4 linked regions of the Homo sapiens genome follow. The protein of the gene in region 3 purifies or fractionates together with the protein of the main gene of each other region. This does not show direct contact. Each region holds a gene or a part of one and is shown on either strand. Other genes may lie near its edges. The genes, in order: SLK, IQGAP2, C8orf76 and EPS8L2.

Region 1 (4,516 bases), on a different chromosome or scaffold from region 3:
ATTAAAATTTTAAGAGATAATAGTTGTTTGCTGTTGTTGTTTGAGACGAGGTCTTGCTCTGTCACCAAGGCTGGAGTGCAGTGGCACAATCACAGCTCACTGCAGCCTCCACCAAGTTCAAGGGATCCTCCCACTTCAGCCTCTCCAGCAGCTGTGACCACAGGTGAGTGCCATCATGCCCAGCTAAGTTTTTTTACTACTTTCCGTAGACATGGGGTCTCGCTATGTTGCCCAGGCTGTTCTTGAATTCCTGGGCTCAAGCAATCCTACTGCCTCAAACTTATAAAGTGCTGGGATTACAGGCATGAGTCACTGCACCTGGCCAGATAACAGTTTTTATTGAGGTTTTGGGGCAAGCAAAAATAGAGTTTGTTCATTCTGTTTATTTTCAACCTTTGTTTTCTAATAAATTTATTTTCTAATTTAAAAATACCTCTATGGATCAGGAAAAAGAATTAAATAAATGAAAAGCAATCTACATTGTGGAAAAAGGACCTCATATCCTACAAATCATTAAGGAAAATATAAATAACCAAAAATTTTAATAGACAAATGAATAACACAGATGAATCCTGAAAAATTACACTCAACCAGTGGTGCTGATTTTGCCATCCAGGAGACATTTGGCAATGTCTGGAAGTATTTTAGGTTGTCACAAAGGGGTAGGGTCAGGGATGCATCCTACAGTGCATAGGACAGCCCTCCACAAAAAAGGATTATCCTGTCCAAAACGGCTGTAGTGCCAACACTGAGAAACCCTGTGCTAAGTGCAAAAAGCCATACATATTAAGAATACATATTGTATGTTTCCACTTATTAAAAAATTCTAGAAAAGGCAAAATTACAGAGCCATTCCGAAAGCAAGTAAGGGCTATCTTGAGCTTGGTGTGGGAATAGAGACAGACTGCAAAATAGGCACATGAGAACTTTCGGGGGGTGACAGAAAGCTTCCAAAGCTGGATTGTAGTAATGGCTGCAAAACTATACAGATTTACTAAAACTCACAAAATTATATGGGTGAATTTTGTGGTATATAAATTATACCTCAAAATAGAGCTTTTTTTTTTTAATTGGGCAAATAACCAGGAATTCCACCAAAAAAAGATACCCAAATATTGAATAAGCACATAAAAAGGCACTCAACTTCATTAGTCATCAGGAAAATGTAAATAAAACCACTTATACTCAACAGAATGGCTAACAAAAAACATTAAAGATAATATTAATAACAATACCAAGTGTAAGTGAAGACACAGAGCAACTGGGAAAACTCCCATACCCTACTGATGGGAGTGTAAATTGGTACAACCGCTTTGGAAGATATGTATAACCTATGACCTAGAAAATTCCTTCCCGGTATATATCCAACAGAAATAATGGCACATGTGCACCAAAAGGCACAAGAATATTCATGAATCGTATTTTTTGGTTTTTAATTTAAAAAATTTAAGGCTGGACATGGTGGCTCACACCTGTAATCTTAGCAATTTGGGAGGCCGAGGTGGGCAGATCACTTGAGCCTAAGAATTTGAGACCAGCCTGGGCAACATGGCAAAATCCCGTCTCTACAAAAAATATAAAAATTAGCTGGGCATGGTAGCAGGTGCCTACAGTCCCAGCTACTTGGGAGGCTGGGGTGGGAGGATCACCTGAGCCTGGGGAGTTGATCGCGCCACTGCACTCCGGCCTGGATGACAGAGGTGAGACTCTGTCTCAAGAAAAAATAATAATAATAAAACAAATAAAGATGGGGTCTCCCTATGTTGCCCAGGCTGGTCTTGAACTCCTGGGCTCAAGTGACCCTCCCACCTTGGCATCCCAAAGTGCTGGGATTACAGGCGTGAGCCCCTGCACCGGGCCGTGAATCATATTTTTAACATACAAAAAGTGAAAACAATCCAAATACTACAGAATGGATAAACTATAATATTTCATAAAATACCATAAAGCAAAGAAAAAGATCAAATTACTACTACATGCAACAACATGGATGAAACTCATTCATATAATGTTTGGCAAAAGAAGCCCAACACAAAGGAATATATTAAATGATTACAGGATTAAAAGAATCATGTAAATGATTATATGAAGCCCAAAAACATACCAATAAGACTGCAGTAGTCTAAGAGATGATAGCAGCTTTGACTAGTGAAATGACAGTGAAGAAAGAAAGAAGTATTTTTGAGAAATATTTAGTAGGTAGAATTAACAGGCCTTGGTGTTTAATTAGGTTTGGCGGGGAAGGCAGCAACAGGTGTTAAAAATGACCTCTAGGTCTCTGGCCTATGCAACTGGTAGATGGAAGTGGTAATTACTGAGTGGGAAGACAGAAGGAGCAAATTTGTGACTGACATCATGAGCTGAATTAGTTCATGTTTTGGACTTGCAGTTTAAGGTATCTGTGAGACATCCAAGCAGAAATCTCTAATAGACAGTTGGATGTGTGGATCTGGAGTTCAAAAGGGAGGTCTTAGGGTAAAGATAGAAATTGCACTTAGATGGTAATTGAAGCCATGGGAGAAGACCGGTTCTCTTAAGAAAAGGAGAAGGTGGCCTATACCCAAGCCCTGTGGAATTCCCACACCTTAAAGTCAGAAAGAGGAAGAACCAGCAAAGGAGTGTGACGAACAGACACAGAGGTGGAAGGAAAATCAAGAGTATGGTGACTTAAAAGCCAAAAGACGGGCCAGGTGAGATGGCTCACACCTGTAATCCCAGCACTTTGGGAGGCCGAGGCGGGTGGATCATGAGGTCAAGAGATCGCGACCATCCTGGCCAACATGGTGAAACCCTGTCTCTACTAAAAAAAAAAAAAAAAAAAAAAAATAGAAAAAATTAGCCGGGCGTGGTAGCAGGCACCTGTAGTCCCACCTACTCGGGAGGCTGAGGCAGGAGAATGGCGTGAACCCGGGAGGCAGAGCTTGCAGTGAGCCGAGATCGCGCCACTGCACTCCAGCCTGGGCGACAGAGCGAGACTCCATCTCAAAAAAAAAAAAAGGCCAAAAGATGAACTTTTTTTTTTTTTTTTTTTTTTTTTTGAGACGGAGTCTCGCTCTGTGGCCCAGGCGGGAGTGCAGTGGCGCAATCTCGGCTCACTGCAAGCTCCGCCTCCCGGGTTCACGCCATTCTCCTGCCTCAGCCTCCCGAGTAGCTGGGACTACAGGCGCCCGCCATCACGCCCGGCTAATTTTTTTTTTGTATTTTTAGTAGAGACGGGGTTTCACCGTGTTAGCCAGGATGGTCTCGATCTCCTGACCTCGTGATCCACCCGCCTCGGCCTCCCAAAGTGCTGGGATTACAAGCGTGAGCCACCGCGCCCGGCCAAGATGAACTTTTTAAAGGAAAGAATGGCCAAGTATCTCAAATGGTAATGACAGGTCAAGTAAGATGGTAAGTGTCCCCTGAATTTAGGGACATGAAGAATCTTAAGACCATGGCAAGAGTCATTATTGGGGGAAGTGGTGGGTGGAGGCTGTCAAATAAATAATACAAGAAAATGTCACAGAACTGAAGGACATAAGTCTTTGGATTGAAAGGACCAACCAAGAGCACAGCAAAACGAAAGAAGAAGAAAAGACCTATATCAAAGTACATCACCACGAACAGAGGATAAAAGAAAATCCTAAAGGCTATTAAGAGAAAAAGATGGCAAAGGATCCAGGAAGCCAAATGGCATCAGACATTCAACAGCAACTCTTGCAGCCAAAAGATAATGAATGGAAGAAAGTCTTCAAAACTAACAAATTCTAAATCTTAAAAATTCTTTAAAAACTTACTTTTGAACTAGAATTATATATATTAAGTTGTGACCTTATAATAAAGACATATTTAGACAGGCAAGTTCTTAAAAAATATGTTTTCCATGGATCCTTTCTCAGAAGGCTACTAAAGGTTGTACACAACAAAAACAAGGAGGAAATTCTAACAGGAAAAACAAAGTATTTAAAACATCCTTGAAGTAGTTTGTGTTCCCACTTCTAGGGAAAAAAACTGTAACTCATTATTAAGATAGTAAAAAAGACCTAAACAGAGATAAAACATGCACAGGTGGGAAGACTCAATATCAAAGAGAGGTTAATTTTTCCAAAACTGATTTATAAATTCAATGAAATCTCTCCAAAAAAACACAGATTTTTTGTGGCACTCAACCAGGCTAACTGGAAAATGTACATAGAAGCCCTAAGGGCCAACAATACTACTAAACTATGTTGAAGAAGCAGCAGAAATTTATTTTAATTCTTTCCTAATTAAGACAGTGGGATACTGGTATAGGAATAGACAAATAGATCAATGAAGAGAACGGAGAATGCAGAAACAGACACATGCTACATAACAGGGCACTGCAGAGCAGTGGGGAATTATTTTTCTTCCCAGCAAATAGTTCTGGGACAATTGTGTATCCATATGGGGAAAAAAATGAAACTGGACCCCTACCTCATACCATTTACAAACATCTATTCTAGGTAGATTATAGATCTAATTGTTAAAGAAAAGCAAAATCATAAAGCTTTTAGAA
Region 2 (4,516 bases), on a different chromosome or scaffold from region 3:
CCAGAGGCTGGGGGAGGTTAAACAGCAGAGCCCTGTTGTGGGGAGCATGTTCCCATGTAACAGTCGGCTTTCCTATGCTGCTTTGGTTATAATTTTTTGTAGATTTCTGAGAAACACAAAGGATAAATATGAGTGGAAGAAAGGACAAGTTTAGAAGAGGCTCACTTCTTTGGTCTTGTTTCTTTTTAAATAAAGAATAGGTGGGAACATAAATGACTGATAGGAATAACAGCAGTTAAAAGTTCATGAGAAATGTGGGAAATGGATATTACTTTGTGTGTGTGTGTGTGTGTGTGTGTGTGTGTGTGTGTGTGTGTGTGACAGAGTCTTACCCTGTCACCTGGGCTGGAGTACAGTGGCACAAACACGGCTCACTGCAGCCTTGACCTCCAAGGCTCAAGTGATCCTCCCATCTCAGCCTCCTGAGTAGCTGGGACTACAGGTGCTTACCACTATGCCCAGATAATTTTTTAAATTTTTTGTAGAGATGAGGTCTCCCTATGTTGCCCAGCCTGGATATTACTTTGTTAGTCAGTGAGGAGAATGAAAAATTAGCTTGAAAAATCAACACTTTCTGTAGTAGGAGGATTTGGGGCAATTTTCTCACAAAAGACCACAAATTCTAAATAGAAATGAATAATCATGAACTACCTTTGTTTTCTAGTAAGTCACTCACTCCAAGGGAGACCGAGGAATGAGAAATGAGTTTCCAAGTGAGGATTAAAAGAGGCCAAACTGATGTTACACTTCTATGGCCTGTTGATTAAATGGCAGACATGAGAACAAACATGACAAGAGGAAAGTGTTTCCTCAGAGCTCCAGGAGGAGTGAATCTGACTACCAGACTCATGCCTTTCTTGTTAATGATTAGTGATATAATTTGGAAACACAAAATCAATAGAATTAAATCTTCTTACATGTGTCATTAAGAAAGGCTTGAGAATAGAACAGAACATATTCACATACACAATCATCAACAAATATAAAATCTGGGTTTTCCTAACCTTTCAAAATCAAGTATTCCATTTCCTACTACAGTCGTTCCTTGGTATGTTTGGGGGATTGGTTCCAGGACCCCCATACACACCAAAATTTGTGCATACTCAAGTTTGAAATTGGCCTTGTGGAACCCATGTATGTGAAAAGTCATCTGTTTGTATATGTGGGTTCTGCATCCCATGAATACTGTATTTTCTCTCTGTCTTTGGTTGAAAAAATCCATATATAAATAGACCCGAGCAGTTCAAACCTGTGTTAATCAAGGGTCAAATGTATCTGACGTAGATAAGCAAGTTCTTCCTCACCGGAAAACTTTTTAAAAATGATTCCTCTCTTCTTAAGTTGAAAGAAGCAGAAATCTGCTATTTTGATTTTTAAATTCTAGGTACTGGAAGCCTGTAGCATACAAGGAAGAACAAGTATGCCATTTTGTCAGCAGCAGAAATAATACACACAGAAAAGACTCAGTGTAATAGGAGTGCTGTGGTGGGGGTGCGATAGGATCGCCAGACAGAGGCAATCTTGCCTGCACTTCCCTCTCTCCTCTTTCCCCAGTGGCTGGTAGAAGAAATGCTTGTAACCACCTGGGGTTCCTGTCCTCCATGCCCACTCTAGCTCTGGGCACAGAGCACATATTATTCTTGCCTACCATTCTTGCACGTTTCTCCAAAACTAAGGGCCCCTCTCACCTGAATTCCTGATACGTCTCTGATAAATAATTGTTCATAGATGAGAGATGCTCATTTTCTCCTTCAAACAGCTTGTTGGAGGCTGCGTGCTGAAGAACCTTGGCCACTGATCCTAAGTTTCTCCTTTGGTCAGAATTTATCTGACCTCCAGCTGTCATGTCGATGATATCAAAGCCATCTGGAGCTACAATGGCTGGATTCATGTACCGATAGTACAGGAGGTTTCCAACAATCTGGAGTGACGCAGAAGTGCATGACCATTTTTAAGAGAGAAAACTCAAGAGTTTTAGTTTTCTTTTTTTTTTTAAAGATATATATTCTCCTACATTTCCCAAGAGAAAGCAGATCATTTTCTGATGTAAATCCTAACAAGGAGTTTAATAAAGGCAATGAATATAATCACACATTATTAATAGCATAATTTGCAAAGTTATTTTTGATGAAAAAATGCTCATTGCCCCCAAAATGCTCTAATGCAAAGAATTTCAATAATGTCTAGGATCTCCAAATTAACCTCAGCTTAATCAATTATCTTGAGAGTCATTAGAAACAGAAGACCTGCAGCTTATTATAAATAATCATACATGGGGAATAATCTTACAAAGTTATATGTTGGTAATTTTGATTCATACCCCCAGGAGAAGCTATGGTGAGATTACCCTTGAAAATCTACCTTTAATAGCTCATCTTCTGTTGCATCGGGGAATTTCTCATGGATCGAATTCTTCAGTACTTTGGCTATATACCTCAATCCATAACTACATATAAAACAGATGACAAAAGAAAATAATGGAAAAAAGGCGGAGTGAGGAAAAAACACACAGCAATTGTTCCAGTCAACTTCAGCTGAGTAGTTTTTCTAAAAATTAAACATAAGATGAGATGGTAATGGAATCACAGGACTTCCACTGATGATAATAACTGAGCTGTGTTTGCTACTGAAGTATTGCCCCTTCTTTAGAGAACAGTCAGGAATTTAAAAGGTAAATGTAGGCAATCTTTTAAAATAGTAAACACAATATAAGGGAAAACTGCTGTCTTCACTACAGGGGCTTATTTTACATCGTATTCCAAGAACGTTCCAGGAAAGAATGTTAAACTTGCTGCAAGTACAACTTACGGCAGTAGATCAAGGGAAGAAATGATAGAATTCAGGACTTTGTCGGTGACCCTTCTCAGGTTCTCAATGGAAGCCTCCAGTTTATTTTTCACTTCTGGGTATGTTAGAGCTTGTTCTGTGGTCACATCATAAGGCAACTTGCTGAAAACACAAAGGCTTTAAATTAACTGGAGGCTTAGGTACAAGCATTAATTTTGCTGCCAAGTTGGTTCTATAGTCAAGCTTTGTATAGTGAATTGGACTTTGCCACTGACTCCAGTAACAAAATGTTTACTAAATGAGGGGAGGCTCCACCTTCACAGAGGGTACCTTCTGCAACTTGGAACAGGAAGGACTTGAGGCCTTCCCTCTGGTCTCTTCTGGCAAGATAAGAGGCAGACCCAGGTAATTTAGACTCAGCTAAATTTCTTTTAATTATAAAAAGCAAATGTTCATTACAGAAAAATAAAATCACATATAATCTAAAACAATACCAGAGAGGACAACCAATTTTCTTTTCTTTTTTTTAAATTAATTATTTTTTATTTTATTATTATTATACTTTAAGTTTTAGGGTACATGTGCACAATGTGCAGGTTAGTTACATATGTATACATGTGCCATGCTGGTGTACTGCACCCATTAACTCGTCATTTAGCATTAGGTATATCTCCTAAAGCTATCCCTCCCCCCTCCCCCAATCCCACAACAGTCCCCAGAGTGTGATGTTCCCCTTCCTGTGTCCATGTGTTCAATTCCCACCTATGAGTGAGAATATGCGGTGTTTGGGACAACCAATTTTCATACCTTAGTGCATAACTGTCCAATCTCCTCTGTGCATGTATGTCTGTGGGCCTCGCATATTGATGGGTGTAATGCAATTTGTGTAATCGACATTCTATACAGATCCTGTGTGGCGTATGTAATGAGCATTCTTTTCCCAGAAAAATGGGTTATTGCACCTAACTCCAACTGGAATATATACCCTGAACATTTTTTTCTGTGCCAACAAATGTATATCTATACCACGATTCCAAATACTTATTCCATTATGTGCTATACAAACATTTATTTAACAAATCCCTCAAAGCTAAATATTTTGACTTTTCCTGACTTTTTATTATTACAAACAGTACTGTAACAACCACCCACATAATTACATAATTCTCTGTGTACACTTTATTTCACAGACATCCTTTTACAGGAAACAAGAAGCTAGGGTTGCTTAAATCTACAACCACCCACCCAGAATAAGCCAATCCAACCTGGATTGTTAAACCTTACACCTTAAAGTTACTTGCCTGGTAACTGTAAAGAAAAGTACGTATTATCAGGTGAAGAGAGAGTCTACACCATCTCTAGGTCTAGGTTTAGAAATACACAAAGAAAATAAACAAGGGAGAGAATTATGGAAGTTGTGGCATTGGGGATCACCTGGCTCTGAAATGTGAAAATACCATTTAGTATCAAGATGTAATTTGCATGGATATGTTAAAGGGAGGTAACATTTTGGATTGATAACTGACTTTGTACAGTTCGCCTAACAAAGTTTAAGAGTATCAATAAATACACATGTAAAAATATCATAAAACATAACAGAAGACCAACACCTTCCTGATTCTATTACCTGGCCTCTCCAGTCTGTGTTTCTAGTTGGTTCACCCAAGCCTTGTACACCTCTACAGGGTTTGTGTTGATAATCAGCGACTTGTCGTCGATGATCTCTTTT
Region 3 (4,516 bases):
TTCTGTAGGGGGACCTGTCGCAGTATGTAACATTGAACAAAATAGACAGCAAGTCCCGGGGTGGCCATCAAGATTCGAACATTTTCTGTTCACAATTTCTGCTGAAATTCATTCACCTCTTTTCATGATTTTTGGATAAAATTTATAGTAGGACTTATTTCTTAAATAATTACAACATTTTCTTATAGTGGTTGGTATTCCTGTGTGGTAACTGTGGTAAGAAAATGGCTTTCTGGTAGTAAGTGACTCCTTTTCATTTATCCACTCAGCACTCAACAAACATTTCAGTCCTACTATTTTCCTGGTTCTGGGTTCGATGCTAAGGAGACAAACAATATATCGTGTACATGCAGTGCTCATCTAGTGTCTGGTCGGTTTAGCCAGCGCACATATACATCAGCTCTTTTTTTCTTTTTGAGATGGAGTCTTGCTCTGTTGCCCAGGCTGGAGTGCAGTGGTGCGATCTTGGCTCACTGCAGCCTCCTCCTCCCAGGTTCAAGCAATTCACCTGTCTCAGCCACCCAAGTAGCTGGGATTATAGGCATGTGTCACCACACCTGGCTACATTTTTTTTTGTTTTTTTGTTTTTGTTTTTGTTTTTTTGTTTTTTAGATGGAGTCTCGCACTGTCGCCCAGGCTGGAGTGCAGTGGCGCGATCTTGGCTCACTGCAACCTCCGCCTCCTGGGTTCAAGCGATTCACCTGTCTCAGCCACCCAAGTAGCTGGGATTAGAGGTGCCCGCCACCACATCTGGCTAATTTTTTGTATTTTAGTAGAGACGGGGTTTCATCATGTTGTCCAGTCTGGTCTCGAACTCCTGAGCTCAGGCAGTCCACCCGCCTCAGCCTCCCGAAGTACTAGGATTATAGGGATGAGCCAATGCGCCCAGCCTTTTTTGTATTTTTAATAGAGACAGGGTTTCACCATGTTGGCCAGGCTGATCTTGAACTCCTGACCTCAAGTGATCTGCCCACCTCGGCTTCCCAAAGTGCTGAGATTACAGGGGTGAGCCACCTTGCCTGGCCATATCAGCTCTTCGTAAGTACCTTTTATTCCTTGACTTTTAGTATAACTGACTGTAGCTCTCCTGCTTACCAGCCACGTTATGGCAGGCAAGTTATCTAACCTCTCTGTGACCCAGTTGCCTTATCTGTAACATAAGGAAAATTACTGAATCTATTTTAAAGCACTGTCAGGAGGATTAAATGAGGAAAACACTTAGAATAGTGCCTGGCACTGCGTAAACACTCAGTAAATGTTAACTGTCATCATCATGTTATTGTTACAGAAAGAGTTGCAGTATTCTGGAAAAATCACTCACTCATTTAAATAGATTTTTTTTTTTTTTTTGAGATGAAGTCTCGTTCTGTTGCCCAGGCTGGAGTGCAGTGGCATGATCTTGGCTCACTGCAAGCTCTGCCTCCCGGGTTCATGCCATTCTCCTGCCTCAACCTCCTGAGTAGCTAGGACTACAGGTGCCCGCCACCACACCTAGCTAATTTTTTGTATTTTTAGTAGAGATGGGGTTTCGCCATGTTAGCCAGGATGGTCTCGATCTCCTGAACTCATGATCCGCCCGCCTTGGCCTCCCAAAGTGCTGGGATTACAGATGTGAGCCACCACGCCCGGCCTAAATAGAATTTAATTTCCAGAAGGAGTTTACTAATCCACCTCTCAAAACCCTACTATTGACAGGGCGCAGTGGCTCATGCCTGTATTCCCAGCACTTTGGGAGGCCGAGGTGGGCGAAGGTCAGGAGTTCAAGACCAGCCTGGCCAACATGGTGAAACCGCATCCCTAATAACAATTTTAAAAACTCTCTTGGTGTGGTGGTGGGCACCTGTAGTCCCAGCTACTTGGGAGGTTGAGGTGGGAGGACTGCTTGAACCTGGGAGGTGGAGATTGCAGTGAGTCGAGATCACGCCACTGCACTCCAGCCTGGGCAAAAGAATGAGACTCCATCTCAAACAAACAAAACCCTGTCATCAGGATCATAGTTTGTGAGTAACAGCCTCCACCCTAACACACACTTGCTTTATCAATATCAAAATGTTTTTGAGGCTGGGCACAGTGGTTCATGCCTGTAAGCCCAGCACTTTCAGAGGCCGAAGGGGGTGGATCACTTGAGGTCAGGAGTTCGAGACCAGCCTGGCCAACATGGCAAAACCCTGTCTTTACTTTATGCAAAAATTAGCTGGGTGTGGTGGCAGGCACCCGTCATCCCAGCTACTCCGGAGGCTGAGGCAGGAGGATTGCTTGAACCAGGGAGGCAGAGGTTGCGGTGAGCTGAGATCGCACCATTGCACTCCAGCCTGGGCGACGAGAGCGAAACTCTGTCTCAAAAAAAAAAAAAGTTTTTGAACAATATAAAGCCCTATAGACTGGTTACAGAAGAAGGGTAGCATTTGTTACAGATGTAGTCTATACATGTTGTTTTCCTTATAAATGACATGATTTGACTTTAGAAAAGTCATTACTCAAACGTGATTTAACATCTGTGATGGCCGAGGAGCTGTGCTCTGTACTAGGAATTTACATTGAACAAAAGCTCTTATGGAGCTAAATGGTCTGTTGGGAAGGACAGATGCTGAACAATAGTAACAATAAAACGAGATGTGTTCTGTCTTTGGGAAGGTACAGTGTCAGCAAATCAGTCGTATGGGGCTTTATCTCCTATCTTTTCACTCAATGTGGGAATATTTAGAGCTGCCCGCAGGCCTTCACTTGCTGGTGTACAGTTTCCTGGGGCCGTACACCAGGTAGTTTTGCTCATGTTTCATGCTCAGTGTGGTTCTGTGAGGGAGCCTGATCTGGACGCTTGCAGGCCAGGCTTTCCTTAGACCTCACATCAACTTGAAGGTAATTTGAGTCTGCCATCTGCTCTCCGCAAACTTCAACTTACAAAAAGCAGGCCTGTTTTTACTAACCCAGAGGACATTTGCCATATGGCAAGTTAGGCAAGAGATGTTGGCGCTGGTTAAGGAGATTTGAAAAGGATTTTCTGATCAAAAGGAAACTAAGCAACCCCTTTTGGCCAAAAATTATAATTGACCTTGGTAATGGTTACCAGGGAAGGCATTTGGATTCAATTAGAATGCGTCATGAAGCATGGAGAGCTTCAGGGCTATCCTGTTTAAAATGTCTAAGCCAAATAAAATTTGGAAGTGGAGTTTGTTCAAATCCTCAAGGAAATTACCATTTGGATTTTTAGAAAGCCTTGAATATTACAATGGAATCATTAGGCCAGGATCTAAGAAAAGTGGCTGGGTCTTTCAGATACCTGGCTGAAGACAGTAAAGATTATAATAAAAATTGGAAATAAATGGATATTTATGTTTTTGATGCTGAACATTTGGCAGGCCACCATCTAGGAATTGTTAAGTTATTATGACATTAGGATGTTTGGGAATGGCTGGTGACTCTTTCTCTAGGTAGCATATATCTCTCTGGGTTTACGGTTTCAAACATGAGATATATTGAAATATATTTAGGTCACTCGTATAGCTACTGAAAGATACTTCTAATTTATAACATATACAACTTGGTTTTTTAGGCATTCTCATTTTATATGGAAAATGCTTTGAAGTTTAAACTTCTTAACCTTTTTTTTTTCTCCTTAGGAAAATAAAGCAACCAACACAGACCATTTAACCACGGTACTCTACCTCCAGCTTGCTATTTGTTCAAGTTTGCAGAACTTGGAGAAAACAATTTTCTGCCTGCAGAAACTGATTTCTTTGCATCCTTTTAATCCTTGGAACTGGGGCAAATTGGCAGAGGCTTACCTGAATCTGGGGCCAGCTCTTTCAGCAGCACTTGCGTCATCTCAGAAACAGCACAGTTTCACCTCAAGTGACAAAACTATCAAATCCTTCTTTCCACACTCAGGAAAAGACTGTCTTTTGTGTTTTCCTGAAACCTTGCCTGAGAGCTCTTTATTTTCTGTGGAAGCGAATAGCAGTAATAGCCAGAAAAATGAGAAAGCTCTGACAAATATCCAAAACTGTATGGCAGAAAAGAGAGAAACAGTGTTGATAGAGACTCAGCTGAAAGCATGTGCCTCTTTTATACGAACCAGGTAAGCTGAGAGTCACTTAAGCAACGCTTGGTAATCAGCTCAGAGTAAAGGCTTTATTTTCTAATTTTAAGCTTCAAAAAGTTCTAGGCTAGACATTTGGTATATATTTTTGAAATTTTCCTATGGTTGTGTTGAACGTTTGTCATTCTAGTGTGTAATACTTGGAAACAAAACTACATTTGTTTAAGAATACAACCTGTGTTAGCTGGTGTGGTAGCACATACCTGTAATCCCAGCATTTTGGGAGGCTGAGGCAGGTGGATCGTTTGAGCTCACGAATTTGAGACCAGCCTGAGCAACATGGTGAAATCCCATTTCTACAAAAATTTTTTTTTGAAAAGTTAACTATGCGGGCCGGGCGCGGTGGCTCACGCCTGTAATCCCAGCACTTTGGGAGGGTGAGGTGGGTGGATCACAAGGTCAGAAGATCGAGACCAG
Region 4 (4,516 bases), on a different chromosome or scaffold from region 3:
TGGAGCTCAGCTGCACCAGCTTCCGGATGGCGTCGTCCACAGACGTGATGGCTTCGCTCTTGTCCATGATGAATGTGGCCAGGTGCTGGGGGTGGGCAGGTGGTCACTGCTGGGCAGAGCCCTCCTTGTGTCGAAAGCCCAGCCCCCAGGGGCCACAGCCTGAGGGGCTGAGGGGCCACAGCCAACCCTGGGTAGGGGGCTAGAACGGGGACCGGCCCCGCCTTTGGTGGGGGGAGTCTCTATTCTGCCTTGGCAGGCATCTGTAGGGGCCATGCTTGTGTCCTGAAACTATCCTCAAAGGAATTCCAACTGCTGCCCGGCCCCGCGCCACCATCCTCACCCGCCCACCTCCTGGTGCAGGCTCAGTACCCGCCCACTGCACCAGCTTTGCCAGCCTCCCCAGCTCTCTTCCTTCTCAGACGTCCCCTCTGTGGCCACCTGGCTACAATGCCAGCCGTCACCCCATCCCGACCTGCCCTAATTCCCTGAATCAGACCCAACGTCGCGCTGCACGTGGTGTGCTGTGCGTCCAGCGTGCTCGCTACTCCAAGGCACTGTTCCGGTTGCCACTTGCTAAGCTGTGTCCCCAGGTCCAGGGCAAAGCCTGGTGCACAGAGGACCCTCGACAAGTGTGTGCGGGATGCGTCCATCCCTGAGGATCTGCGGCCAGCCTGGCCCCTGCCCTGTGCCCTTCACCTCTCCTCTTTCCAGGCCTGGCTCAGGCCCCCTCCTCCAGCCAAGCTGCCGTGTTCACTAAGTAAAACCCTCCCACGAAGGGTTGGCCGTTCGGTGCACAATGCTGGCACAGCTGGATAAACACTAACTTGAACTACAGGACAGTCAAAGACAACCACAAAACGCAAAACATAAAAGTTTGTGTGGCCGGGCGCGGTGGCTCACATCTATCATCCCAGCACTGCGGGAGGCCGAGGCGGGTGGATCACCTGAGGTCAGGAGTTCGAGACCAGCCTAGCCAACATGGTGAAACCCTGTCTCTACTAAAAATACAAAAAATTAGCCAGGCATTGTGGCGGGCGCCTGTAATCCCAGCTACTCGGGAGGCTGAGGTGGGAGAATCACTTGAACCCAGGAGGCAGAGGTTACAGTGAGCCAAGATTGCACCACTACACTCCAGGCTGGGCAACAGAGGAAGACTCTGTCTCAAAAAAAAAAAAAAAAGATCGGGCGCAGTGGCTCATGCCTGTAATCCTAGCACTTTGGGAGGCCGAGGCGGGTGGATCACAAGGTCAGGAGATTGAGATCATCCTGGCTAATATGGTGAAACCCCGTCTCTACTAAAAATACAAAAAATTAGCCAGGCGTGGTGGCAGGCGCCTATAGTCCCAGCTACTCGGGAGGCTGAGGCAGGAGAATGGCGTGAACCCAGGAGGCGGAGCTTGCAGTGAATCAAGATCGTGCCACTGCACTCCAGCCTGGGCGACAGAGTGAGACTCCATCTCAAAAAAAAAAAAAAGAAATTAAAAAAATTAAAAAATTAGCCAGGTGTGGTGGTACACACCTGTCATCCCAGCTACTTGGGAGGCTGAAGTGGGAGGAATGCTTGAGCCCAGGAGGTCAAAGTTGCAGTGAACCATGTTCGTGCCACTGCACTGAGCCTGGGCAACAGAGAGAGACCCTGTCTCAAACTAAAAAAAAAAAAAAAAATTAAAAAAGCATGCAAAAACTCAAAGAAAAAATTGTATGCAACACCATTGAATGAAAGAATTACAATTTGAAACTCTGAGCCTCTTTTATTTTAGTGTTTTGTCGGTTTGGCGGGTTTTTTTGTTTGTTTGTTAGTTTTTGTTTTGTTTTTGAGACAGTCTCGCTCTGTCCCCCAGGCTGGAATGCAGTGGTGTGATCTTGGCTCACTGCAAGCTCCGCCTCCCGGGTTCAAGTGATACTCCTGCTTCAGCTTCCCGAGTACGTGGGATTATAGGCACCCACCACCACACCCGACTAATTTTTGTATTTTTAGTAGAGACAAGGTTTCTCCATGTTGGCCAGAATGGTCTCAAACTACTGACTTCAGGTTATCTGCCCGCCTCAGCCTCCCAAAGTGCTGGGATTACAGGCGTGAGCCACCATGCCCAGCCTCTGTTTGGTTTTTGGTTAACAATTTTTTTTTTCTTTTTTTTGAAACGGAGTCTCACTCTGCTGCCCAGGCTGGAGTGCAGTGGCGCGATCTCGGCTCACTGCAATCTCCGCCTCCCAGGTTCACGCCATTCTCCTGCCTCAGCCTCCCGAGTAGCTGGGACTACAGGCGCCTGCCACCACGCCCGGCTAATTTTTTGTATTTTTAGTAGAGATGGGGTTTCACCATATTAGCCAGGATGGTCTCCATCTCCTGACCTTGTGATCTGCCCGCCTCGGCCTCCCAAAGTGCTGGGATTACAGACGTGAGCCACTGTGCCCTGCCTATTTATTTTTTCTAGAGACAAGGGCTTGCTATGTTGCCCAGGCTGGTCTTGAACTCCTGGGCTGAAGCGATCCTCCTGCCTGTGCCTCCCAAAGTGCTGGGATTATAGGCATGAGCCACCTCGCCCAGCCAGGAATTGTGTTTTTTTACCTATTCTATTGCCCAATACTAATAGTCATTGTGGGTTTTACTTATGGGTTAGGATGTGGAGAAAGGATGCCCTCATCCAGCACCTGCCCAGCCTCTCTGGGGAGAGGCCAGTGGCACCTCTAAAGCTGCACACACCATCCCCTCCCAATTCTACTACAGGTAATCTGCACACGTGCAAAATGTGGCATCGGTACCAGGCTGCTCAATGCAGAACTATTTGTAATAATAAAGACTGGACCCAGCCTACATGTCCATCAACAGGTTAAAGAAGTGGGCAGATCCAACAGGTTACAGTGGGCACAGGGCCAGACACGGTGGCTCATGCCTGTAATCCCAGCACTTTGGGAGGCCAAGGCAGGTGGATCACAAGGTCAGGAGTTCGAGACCAGCCTGACCAACACGGTGATACCCCGTCTCTACTAAAAATACAAAAATTAGCCCGGCGTGGTGGTGGGCGCCTGTAACCCCGGCTACTCAGGAGGCTGAGTTAAGAGAATCACTTGAACCCGGAAGGTAGAGATTGCAGTGAGCCGAGATCGTGCCATTGCATTCCAGCCTGGGCAACAGAGCGAGACTCTGTCTCAAAAATAAATAAATAAATAAAATAAGTGTGCAGAAACACGCAAGGGACTATGAGGCCACTCATCTCTCTGCGAGAGGCAGAGTAAAACCTGAAACACACAATACAACCAAACAAGAAAAACCAGGCTGCTGGGCCACAGAACAAGTCTCAGTAAATCTCAAGTGACTGCAACAGTACAGAATATGTTTTTTGATCATAACAGAATTAAGGTAGAAACCCATAATAAAAATAAAACCAGAAAATCCCCAAATGTTTAGAAACAAAGCAACATATTTCTAAATAACCCATGCATCAAAGATGAAGTCACAAGAAAACTAGAAAGCATTCTGAACATACATATCACAATTTGTGGAATACAACTAAACCAGTGCTGCAAGGAGAATGTAGAGCTTTCCATGAATATCTTAGAAAAGAAGAAAGACTTAAGATCAATAATCTGGCCAGGCACGGTGGCTCACGCCTGTAATCCCAGCACTTTGGGAGGCCAAGGAGGGTGGATCACTTGAGATCAGGAGTTTGAGACCAGCTGGGCCAACATGGCAAAACTCTTGTCTGTACTGAAAATACAAAAATTATCCCAGCACTTTGGGAGGCTGAGGCAGGCAGATCACAAAGTCAGGAGATCAAGACCATCCTGGCTAACACGGTGAAACCCTATCTCTACTAAAAACACAAAAAATTAGCCGGGCGGGGTGGCGGGCGCCTGTAGTCCCAGCTACTCAGGAGGCTGAAGCAGGAGAATGGCATGAACCTGGGAGGCGGAGCTTGCTGTGAGCTGAGATGGTGCCACTGCACTCCAGCCTGGGTGACAGAGCGAGACTCTGTCTCAAAAAAAAAAAAAACCCCACACAAAAATTAGCCAGGCATGGTGGTGCATGCCTGTAACCTCAGCTACTTGGGAGGCTGAGGCAGGAGAATCGCTTGAACCCAGGAGGCGGAGGTTGCAGTGAGCTGAGATTGCACCAGTGCACTCCAGCCTGGGTGACAGAGTGAGACTCCATCTCAGAAAAAAAAAAAAAAAAAAAAGATAAATAATCTAAGGTTTCACCTTAAGCAGGTAGGAAAAGTGAATCAATGCCGGGCGCGGTGGCTCATGCCTGTAATCCCAGCACTTTAGGAGGCCGAGGCAGGCGGATCGTGAGGTCATGAGATCGAGACCATCCTGGCTAACGCGGTGAAACCCCGTCTCTACTAAAAATACAAAAAATTAGCTGGGCGTGGTGGTGGGCACCTGTAGTCCCAGCTACTTGGGAGGCTGAGGCAGGAGAATGGCGTGAACCCAGGAGGCGGAGCTTGCAGTGAATCAAGATCGTGCCACTGCACTCCAGCCTGGGCGACAGAGCAAGACTCCATTTCAAAAAAAA

Evidence for each region.
Region 1: the proteins of C8orf76 (region 3) and SLK purify together in Homo sapiens (affinity purification with mass spectrometry; one large-scale study listed by BioGRID and IntAct). This does not show direct contact.
Region 2: the proteins of C8orf76 (region 3) and IQGAP2 purify together in Homo sapiens (affinity purification with mass spectrometry; one large-scale study listed by BioGRID and IntAct). This does not show direct contact.
Region 4: the proteins of C8orf76 (region 3) and EPS8L2 purify together in Homo sapiens (affinity purification with mass spectrometry; one large-scale study listed by BioGRID and IntAct). This does not show direct contact.

What each region holds. Positions count from the first base shown.
Region 1 is NC_000010.11:103,973,137-103,977,652, reverse strand, and holds part of SLK (STE20-like serine/threonine-protein kinase), read right to left. Parts: intron 1-4,516. UniProt on the Homo sapiens protein: Mediates apoptosis and actin stress fiber dissolution.
Region 2 is NC_000005.10:76,671,882-76,676,397, reverse strand, and holds part of IQGAP2 (ras GTPase-activating-like protein IQGAP2), read right to left. Parts: coding exon 4,415-4,516; intron 2,950-4,414; coding exon 2,809-2,949; intron 2,447-2,808; coding exon 2,362-2,446; intron 1,922-2,361; coding exon 1,689-1,921; intron 1-1,688. UniProt on the Homo sapiens protein: Binds to activated CDC42 and RAC1 but does not seem to stimulate their GTPase activity. Associates with calmodulin.
Region 3 is NC_000008.11:123,230,862-123,235,377, reverse strand, and holds part of C8orf76 (uncharacterized protein C8orf76), read left to right. Parts: intron 1-3,620; coding exon 3,621-4,078; intron 4,079-4,516. Other genes in the region: ZHX1-C8orf76 (zinc fingers and homeoboxes protein 1), read left to right, coding at 3,621-4,078.
Region 4 is NC_000011.10:715,631-720,146, reverse strand, and holds part of EPS8L2 (epidermal growth factor receptor kinase substrate 8-like protein 2), read right to left. Parts: intron 86-4,516; coding exon 1-85. UniProt on the Homo sapiens protein: Stimulates guanine exchange activity of SOS1. May play a role in membrane ruffling and remodeling of the actin cytoskeleton. In the cochlea, is required for stereocilia maintenance in adult hair cells.